Linked DNA regions of Homo sapiens. The protein of the gene in region 2 purifies or fractionates together with the protein of the main gene of each other region. This does not show direct contact. Each region holds a gene or a part of one and is shown on either strand. Other genes may lie near its edges.

Evidence for each region.
Region 1: the proteins of ZP2 (region 2) and INTS7 purify together in Homo sapiens (affinity purification with mass spectrometry; one large-scale study listed by BioGRID and IntAct). This does not show direct contact.
Region 3: the proteins of ZP2 (region 2) and RHOBTB3 purify together in Homo sapiens (affinity purification with mass spectrometry; one large-scale study listed by BioGRID and IntAct). This does not show direct contact.

What each region holds. Positions count from the first base shown.
Region 1 is NC_000001.11:211,976,543-211,980,202, reverse strand, and holds part of INTS7 (integrator complex subunit 7), read left to right. Parts: intron 1-1,691; coding exon 1,692-1,931; intron 1,932-2,658; coding exon of another isoform or gene 2,659-2,757; exon of another isoform or gene 2,758-3,371; intron 3,372-3,483; coding exon 3,484-3,621; intron 3,622-3,660. UniProt on the Homo sapiens protein: Component of the integrator complex, a multiprotein complex that terminates RNA polymerase II (Pol II) transcription in the promoter-proximal region of genes.
Region 2 is NC_000016.10:21,199,103-21,201,574, forward strand, and holds part of ZP2 (zona pellucida sperm-binding protein 2 isoform 1 preproprotein), read right to left. Parts: intron 2,457-2,472; coding exon 2,267-2,456; intron 777-2,266; coding exon 641-776; intron 565-640; coding exon 468-564; intron 1-467. UniProt on the Homo sapiens protein: Component of the zona pellucida, an extracellular matrix surrounding oocytes which mediates sperm binding, induction of the acrosome reaction and prevents post-fertilization polyspermy.
Region 3 is NC_000005.10:95,755,188-95,758,847, reverse strand, and holds part of RHOBTB3 (rho-related BTB domain-containing protein 3), read right to left. Parts: intron 3,453-3,660; coding exon 3,087-3,452; intron 1-3,086. UniProt on the Homo sapiens protein: Rab9-regulated ATPase required for endosome to Golgi transport. Involved in transport vesicle docking at the Golgi complex, possibly by participating in release M6PRBP1/TIP47 from vesicles to permit their efficient docking and fusion at the Golgi.

The DNA.
Region 1 (3,660 bases), on a different chromosome or scaffold from region 2:
CAGCTAATAAGAAGTAGAGAAGGGAAGTAGACAACATGTGTTTGGCAACACATTCTGAGGGGGATCCTCAGAATCCCCTTGGAACCACAGTACATTTAAGACTTTTTTTAAAAGCAAATCTTTTTTCCAACAATTGTGGGTGTCAGTAAAATGCTGGATTCAGCACAGTGGGACATACATAGATGGCCAAGAAAGGTTCCTGTAATAGAGGAGCTTCCCATCTAGAATAGGCTACTGATGTTTATATAGGGGACTATAATACCAAGCGGAACACAATACATTCTCTGATATTTCACAAAAAAAGTGCAGTTCTAATGAGAGGTCAGAGTCGGGAGTGATTAACTTTAACCAAGGGTATTAGGGAAGACTTTAAATAAATGTCATATGAGTTGAGTTGTGAAAGATGGAATCGAATTACAGTAATGAGGAAAGATTGTTTGAGCCCAATGACTGCTGTTATAAAAGACTTGAAAGTAAGAATGTACCTGTTGTGGTGGAAGAATGGTGACTAGCCCACTGTGGCTGGGTGAAATAATTTGAGATTTGGAAAAGTAGTTCAGTCATAGAGGATATCAAATAACATGGTATTATGGCTTTGATTCTATAGGTAATGAGGAGATAATATAATTTTAAAGTAATGGTAACCTTTGTCGTAATTATTATTGTTATTTGAATGTCTATTATGTGCCAATCTTTGTTGAAGACTTATATATACATTTGTTTCAGTCCTTCAATAACCCTATAATGAAATGTGTTCTCCTCTTATACACATCAGAAACTTAAGGCCGAGAGAGAGAAGTACCTTGTTCAAAGCCACCTAGCTAATAAGGGGCAAGCTGAGCTTCAGCCCTTGCATTTATCAGACTCTAAAGTTATGTGTGTGCCTGACACCCCACTGATGGCTACATGGCTGCATTGTGAAGGATGGATTGAAGGGCCCATCTTTTCAAGAAATTGGAATTAGGAAGAGATTTATGATGTGGTAGAGAGAATGGAAAAGTGCCAACAGTGGATATTGGAGGCTTGACAAAAGAATCTGTTAGCTATGTAAAAGTGGGAATATTTCTAGGTTTCTAGTTTTTTGGCTGGATATTAGTGATGCCTTTAAGAAGGCCTTGGTAAGAGAAATTCTGTAGCCAAATTGGTTTTTAGATTTCAGTTGAGAAATAAGAGAAAATTGGGAACCTCTTTCCCACTTCAGTGTACTTAGAGTCATCTAAGCCGTCTTTTTAAAACTGTGAAACCTCAGTAGCCTCAACACACACACACACGTATGTTAATTCAGGAATCTATATTTTTATTTTCATTCTGGGAGATGCTGGCATAGTTTACAAGCCACACTTCAGAAGCAGTTCCTGAAAAGTAATGATAATACAGTGATGGTGACATTTGGCCTATATTTGCCTCTTCAGCATTATTCCTTATGATTTCCATCTTTCTTAAAAGTATTTTAATAGTCTTAGATTGAAATGAGTGGTTGACGTGCAGTCCTAATTTGTTATTTTAAACGTAGTGCACTTCACAAACCCTAATGTGAGATTCAGTACCTCATATTTCTTATGAAGTAAAATGTTATGCCTACAAGAAACCTCACCCTTGAGTTTCCCCAGTAACCTGTACAAAGCTCTTTTCCTTAAAGCTTCATCTGTATCTTCAAAATGTAACTAGTTCATTTTCTTTTTGGCGTGCAGATTGCTCTAAACTGTATGGTGAAGTTGGCCAAGGGCAGGCCCCATCTTAGCCAGTCAGTAGTTGAGACCTTGTTGACTCAATTGCACAGTGCTCAAGACGCTGCCCGGATTTTGATGTGCCATTGCCTGGCAGCCATTGCCATGCAACTGCCGGTGCTGGGTGATGGGATGCTTGGTGACCTCATGGAGCTGTACAAGGTGATTGGACGATCAGCCACAGACAAGCAACAAGAACTTCTGGTAAAAAGCCCATTTTGAATCTCCTTTGAATGACTAGGATCTGGTCTAGTGGGAATTACTTTTAAGTCAACATTACTATTTGACTTTACTTAAAAAACAGAACAAACAATAGGTTAAATTCATTACCTAAGACCAAAGAGTGTGCTGATGTCAAAATAGAATTGGCTTTATGAGCTTTTTACTTTTTTCACTTTTGATTTAGAAAGCCGTGTTTTGTTCACCTCTAAAACTGCTTTCTTCCGAAACCCTGTCAAATCAGCCTAGTATAGCCAAAGCCTTCAATCTCATGTTTTTTTTTATTGCAAAGGACAGAATGAAAATGAAATTTTTATCTTTCTTATACAGAGTAAATAATGAACTAAACCCTGTTTTGTACTTTAGAAAATAGAAGTTAAAAATCTAATGATAATAATGACCATAAATTAGCCCAAATTTATGTTTTCCATTCCAGGACCTCTTTAGCTGTTTAGGATCCAGTTTAGGCTTCTGTAGACCCTTGAGGTTGGGAAAGGTACATGCTTAGAAAGAAACAGAAGCTGTGGAAGCTATAAAATGTTTAGTTGAAAAGTTCTGCAGGACTGAGAGTAGGCTACATTCTAAATAATTGTAAATTAAATGAAAGTTGTAAGGTTGCCATTCCATATTGTTCTGTTCATCTTAATTTAGAATGTGGGAAAAAATATAATGAAATAATTTATTCAAGCCTGTTTTATGTTTAATCCTCCAGAGGGAATTGTGTAAAAGATTGACCCCATCCCATCATTTGCTGCCAGAAAAGGTTACCTTGATGACCAAATGTATGGATCTTTATATGAATCAGCTTTGAAATATTAAGAGGCAGTTAGCTAAGTTTATTTTTTATTGAAGTGGCATTTTGAACTAACGGTCCTGATATCTTTTTTGTGAGTACTACCTTAAGATTGTCTTAAATTATGAAACATAATATTCAAAAAATCTGAGGAATAATACAGTGAAAACTCTTGCATTCATTATCTAGCTTAAGAAAAAGGTATTAACAGTTTAGTTGAAGCCCCCTGTTTACCTTGCTGATAGCATCTCCTCCCTTCTCTCAGGTAACCACTATCCTGAATTTGGTATTTATCATTCTCATGCCTGTTATTCTTTTACTACCAAAGTGTATATCCCTAAGTAATATGCAGTATTTTGCATATTTTTAATTTTATGTAAACTTTATCATACTACTTGTAATCTTTTGCATTTTGCATATTTTTGCGTATTTTGCTTGTCATCTATGTTGGTAAGTCTGTCGCTAGTTTATCCATTTTATTTACGTATCTCATTGTTTGATTATGTTATATAATTTATTCATATTATGGGTATTGCTTCTACTTCTTTGCTGTTATAAAGAGTGCCCTGAGTGAATGGAATAAATTAATGACTTCAAAATAAAAAATTAAATAAATGTCATTGGAAAACAAATTTTGTTCTTTTGCAGTGGGCTCTAATTAGTTTTCCTCCCTTTGGGGTAGGTTATCAATGACACTGAATAAAATTAAATGATTTTCTTGGTTTTCTTCTTGCCCAATGTTAGGTGAGTTTGGCTACTGTGATTTTTGTTGCAAGTCAGAAGGCATTGTCTGTGGAAAGTAAGGCAGTAATTAAGCAGCAGCTTGAAAGTGTCTCCAATGGATGGACTGTATACCGTATTGCCAGACAGGCTTCCAGAATGGTATGTGTTACCCTTCTGAGTGAACTGGGTTGCTGGAAA
Region 2 (2,472 bases):
GTCAGGAGATTGAGACCAGCCTGGCCTGGCCAACATGGTGAAACCCTGTCTCTACTAAAGATATAAAAGTTAGCTGGGTATGTTGGGGGGGTTCCTATAATCCCAGCTACTTGGGAGGCTCAGGCAGGAGAATCATTTCCCTTGAACCCTGGAGGTGGAATGAGCCAAGATCACACCATCTTACTCCAGCCTGGGCAACAAGAGCAAAACTGTCTCAAAAAAAAAAAAAAAAAAAAAAAAAAGGATAGATTCTTAAAGAACTCATCGTCTATAGAACTAGACAAGAAACTGTTCATCTTAGACCTGTCACATGAGTAAGGTAGACTGGACCAAGTTTTGACTGGGCCAACAAGAGCTCTGGGCAGTAAATAAAGTATGAGTTATACCAGTCCTTAAGATCTTCTATTCTAAAAAGTTGATACTTGCTTTGAATTAGACTCACAGAAACAGGAATTTGAAGTTTTTACCTCGCCTGTGCCTAGAGGACACAGGGCAGGTCACAGAACACAGTGGGGAGTCAGGGGAGAGTCGATTACAGATTAAGGCACTGCAGTGGAAGTAGACCTGGAGACAGAAGAGAGTTACATGGAATCGATGCACTAACATTTAACCTGTCCCTGGTGACTTCTGAATCACTTACCAGGCTAGAGAGCACGTGGGCTTCTGATACAAAGGCAAAAGCCTTCATGTCAAACCTCTGATAGTGATCAGGATGGGTCACAGAGGAGCCGACTGGATGGAAGGTGGTCTGGTAGTTGTCCAGGTCATATGCACAGCTAGGAGGTATGCACCAGGGAGGGATGTCAGTCATATGCATCTTGGAGTCAAATTCAATGTCTGCCCAGATTTAGTCATACGTAATATCTTCAGAACTATTGCCATATTTACCTTCTACCAGCACCTTTGTTTTACTCAGCATTTCTTACCTGACCTATAATACCTATGAAATCATAAGTTGTATAGACTAGTTATATTTTAACTATTTTAGCAGTACCTGTTTGCCAACTACATGAGAAGTACAAATTATATCATTTCAGAAGACACTGGTTTCTTGGCCAGGTGCAGTAGCTCACACCTGTAATCCCAGAACTGTGGGAGGCTGAGGTGGGCAGATCACCTGAGGTCAGGAGTCTAAGACCAGCCTGGCCAACATGGTGAAACCCCGTTTCTACTAAAGATATAAAAATTAGCTGGGCATGGTGGCAGGCACCTGTAGTCCCAGCTACTTGGGAGGCTAAGGCAGGTGAATCGCTTGAATCTGGGAGGCGGAGGTTGCAGTGAGCTGAGATTGTGCCATTGCACTCCAGCCTGGGGGACAAGAGTGAGACCTCGTCTCAAAAACAAAACAGAAGGCTTAGTAACTGAGCTACCACAGCTTCAAGAAAGCAAAGGTGCAGTTTTAGCCAAGTACACACTATTCCATAAGAATGGGTGAGATCCAGTTGTAGGACAGGACACGGCAGGAGAGCTGTAAGGTTGAACACCTATGTGTACAAGTGTGTGGCTGCAACCTCAGAGCATCAGTGCTCAGATTCTAGAGTCAGATGGATATTCTAATACAAGCTCCATTGTTTAAGTATTGTTTTGGGCTGGTTATTTAGGCAGCAAGCTGGGGTTTCTTCATGAAAGACGAAGACTAGTACAACTAGTGGATGTGGAATACATAGCACTGTGCCTGGCATATGGTAGGTGTTCAGATGGATAGAGGCTAGAGACCAGTCTTTCCAGATGATCAACACCATAGTAGAGTCAGACTTTCTGGGGCTTTGGAACTCATTCCTTAAGATTCAAGAGGTGATTGGAAGGCAGCATGTGGCCAAGTGTGGTGGTTCACACCTGTAATCCCAGTACTTTGGGAGGCCAAGGTAGGTGGATCACCTGAAGTCAGGAGTTCGAGACCAGCCTGGCCAACATGGCAAAACCCTGTCTCTACTAAGATAGCAAAAATTAGCTGGGCTTGGTGGTGTGCCCCTGTAATCTCAGCTACCCAGGAGGCTGAGGTAGGAGAATTGCTTGAACCCAGGAGGCAGGGGCTACAGTGAGCTAAGATCATGCCGCAGCACCCCAACCTGGGTGACAGAATGAGACCCCATCTCAAAACAAAAAAAAAAAAAACAGAAGGCAGAAGAGTCCCAATTAGAAAACAAGGACTAAATCTGGATCTCACATGACTGAATGCTGCTCTAAAGCCCAAGAGGGTTTATTCCCATTACTGGCAAGTTTTGATGGATTAGCTGGGTAACCTGATAGTACAGGGAGTACCTACCCATCCACGACAACGTTCCACTGGGGGAAAGAGTCTGGATCCATGGTGGACGTCGCCCAGCAGTCATCTAAGACCAGCTTGATGTTGGGGTCATCCCTGTTTAGGACTCTCACTTCCATGTAAATTGGTTGGCGGAGGAATCTCACTAGAGGGTACTCGTTTTCCCCATAAGGTTGTTGGTAGGAATTATCTGAAATTGAATGGTA
Region 3 (3,660 bases), on a different chromosome or scaffold from region 2:
TGGCAGTCCAGAGATCCAGCACCACCTCGGAGACTACTGGAAATGCAGAATCTCATGCCCCACTCCAGGTAACTGAATCAGAATCTCCACAGGAACAAGATCCTCAGATGATCTGCACACACTTTAAGGTTTGAAAAGCACTGGTCTAGACGATGAAGGGCCAATGGCAGGGCCACCCACTGTCTGAATGTTGGCCTTCCTGAGGCTGATCGCCAGAGTAATGGGACCTCCTGATTGAATGCCTGTCTTGGCCGCACTGTTCCACCCTGCAACCACAACCAGAGATGAGCTTTCTAAAGCCCAGTCTGATCATGCTTAAAACTCTAGCACAAGTCTAAGAGCAGCAGGAACAGCTTCCACAGGCCTTGCCCACCTCATCACCCACCAGCCATCACCTTTCACTCTACGCTCCAGCCATGGGAAACGGCCTGTGATCCCTGGAAAGCAGCAGATACCTAGGATTACACTTTTATTAATCAAATGTCCCCAGAATATTAATCTCTTTCAAACAGTATCAGAATGAGTGCATAAAAAAATTACAACAGGTAAATGACTCCGGGGAAAGGGTCTAGGGTAGAAGGATAACTTTTTTCTTTTCTTTCTCTTTTTTTCCATCTGCCTGTATTAATTTTGCAATTAAATAAAGCACTCCCCCTAGGAGAAAGCTAGGCAGGATCAGCCACTGGAGATACATCTAGCTATTTTACTGCTACTATGTTAAAAAGGATATAAGACGTCAGAGTGCTCATATGCCTTTGAAAGTAGTCAATAATAATTGTGGAAGCCTACTGAATAATTCATGTAATTTCAACAGAAAATTATCATACAAAAGTCACATCCCTCACAGTTCCTTAAACATATGATTAAAAACATCTTTTTTCTCTTAACATGTAAACATGTTAGTTTTTCAAAATCTTAAATTCTGAACTGTGACATTCTAAGTTTAAACGTCAAAATCTATAGTACTAAATGAAGTCTTTAAATAGTTTGGCTTACTGATATGATGATGCCCGGCTACTGGAGCCTACTCTTTAATTCAACTAAAACTTACAGAGAACCCGTTGAAGGCAATGTGCTGGGTGTGTGCTGTACAGGTGCTTAATTTATGCTTTTTCCAAGCCAATATTTCACTAACCTAGCACCACATTCTACTCCAATATGTATTTTTTATCCACATAAATCTGCGTGCTGCAACTGTACTTTTCAAAATCATAATTTAAGTTTTAACTTATAAAATTACATGACCACAAACCACATGAACAAAGTAATACCTTATTTTTAACATCAATTACTTAAATAAAGGCTGCCCCAAATTTCCCTACCTGTATGAAATGATACTTGCCTTGCAAACCTTAAACTTTTTGTCTGTTCCCAATTAGGCTTTACTTGAACCCTAAAAACAAATTAATTATAAATGTTTCTCCAGACACACTGCAGAGCAGGAGTGACCTTAGCCTAACAGGTTATCGCTACATGATTTGAAGTGGGTAAAGAAAATTAAAGACAGGAGTTCTGAGAAAACTTATATTTAGATGCTTACATTAAAATTCATTTTACATCTGTTCTTTTCCACTCTTACATGGGACACTTAGATGTAAGACCTTCAATTCATTTGCTAAAATGACTCAGATAGAACTTCCATCTTTAAAATATAGTTGCTACTGAGTTTTTAAAAGGGCAAAGAGAAAAATACTTGATAAGCTAAATCTTAAAAAGAAAGGGCACAGTAAGGAAAAAAAAAAGTAACGTCTATGATAGTCATAGCCAAAGTTAATTAGACCTCAACTAACACTGGATATTGATTTCCAGTCCGTAAGCTGAATGCAATTCTCTCTTTCACGCCCTACAAAACCTAAGAGTCAAACCGAAGAGTGAATAGCTAGGTTTTAAGGTGTAGACACTTGATTTCATTTACTCTTGGAATATTTTATGTCTTTAAAACTAAATTGGACAATAAATTCTCACATTTCATATTTTGGATGTTTTTTAAAGAAATAAAATATTAACATACTTGTTTGGCAGATTATGGTTTTTACAAGTAGATTTAAAACCAAGGCAAATACAAAAACATATGAAAAGATGCTTGATATCACTAATCATTAGGGAAATGCAAATCAATACCAGAATTAGATACCACATCAAACCCATTAAGATGGCTACTATTAAAAAAAATAAACAGCAAGTGTTGGCAAGGATGTGGAGAAATTGGAACCCTTGTGCACAGTTTGTAGGCACATAAAGTGGTATAGCTAGTGTGGAAAACAGTATGGCAGTAAAAAATCAAAAACAGAATTACCATGTGATCCAGCAATTCCACTTCTGTGTATATATGCAAAAAATAAAATAAAAGCAGAGTCTCAAAAGAGATATTTGTACACTATGTTCACAGCAGCATTACTCACAATAGCTAAAACAGTGGAAGCAACCCAAGCGTCCATGGATGAATGAATGGGTAAACAAAATGTGGTCTATATGTACTACAGAATATTATCAACCTTAAAAGGAAGAAAATCCTGATACATGCCACAACTTGGATGAACCTTTAAGACATTATGCTAAGTAAAATACATCAATCACAAAATGACAAATACTGTATGATTCCACTTACATGAGGCACTTAGGAGAGTTAAAATCACAGAGACAGAAAGTAGAATGGTGGCTGTCAGGGGCTGGAAAGAGGTCGGAATGGGGAATCATCGTTTAATGGGTATAGAGTTTCAGTTTTATAAGATGCAAAGAATTATGGACACGGATGGTGGTGATAGTTACACAACATTATGAATGTGTTTAATTCCACTGAACTGTGTTCTTAAAAATGGTTAAGATGGTAAAATTTATGTTCTATGTATTTTACCACAATAAAATGAAATTGATAGGGAAAAGATGAGGCAAGTACATTTGTAAGGAAAACAGAAAGCTTGGACCAATTCTTATATATAAAGCAAATAATATTTCATGTATAATCTTAATCTCAGATGGTAGGTAAAGACCACTGTAAAACTAACCAGTACCCTTGAGTGTCACAGGCACATTTCATTTCCAAAGCTTATGAGATTGTAAGTAACCAGAACCACTTGACAAGATACCTGAATAAATGAAGCGAAGGATGTCTGATAAACAAGAACAGAAGAGGGCGTCTTTAACAATGACTCGTAATGGTGGGTTGCCTGAAGATTCATGGCTAGCACCTGGAAATGCAGTATCTCTGTTTATAGCAAAAAGATCCTGGGTAGTTCGGATGATACTGGAATCCTGAATGTCAGTGGGACTCTTCACATTGAAAAGCAGCATGAAAACATGGCTTACAGCGCAGAGAACGATCTTGTGGGCCTCTACAACTTTCTTTAAATTGGGGTTGTAAAATACCACGTCCACACACTGGCAGCAGAACAGCAAGTTATTTAAGTCAGAGTTATAATGTGACGCTTCAGCCTTTAAGACAGGCATTTTTTCTGTTTTGAAAAAGAAAATAAAAATAATAAACTCCTTTCAGGTTTACAGACCCAACAATTTCATGTTTACTTTAAATATAATTGTATAATATTTTAAAATATTATTAGGTTAAAGCATAAGAAACAGCCAATATTTAACCATTTTTTGATGCACAAAAACAGCGATTTTCTACTACTGCTTAACCTAATTTATAAACATATATAAACT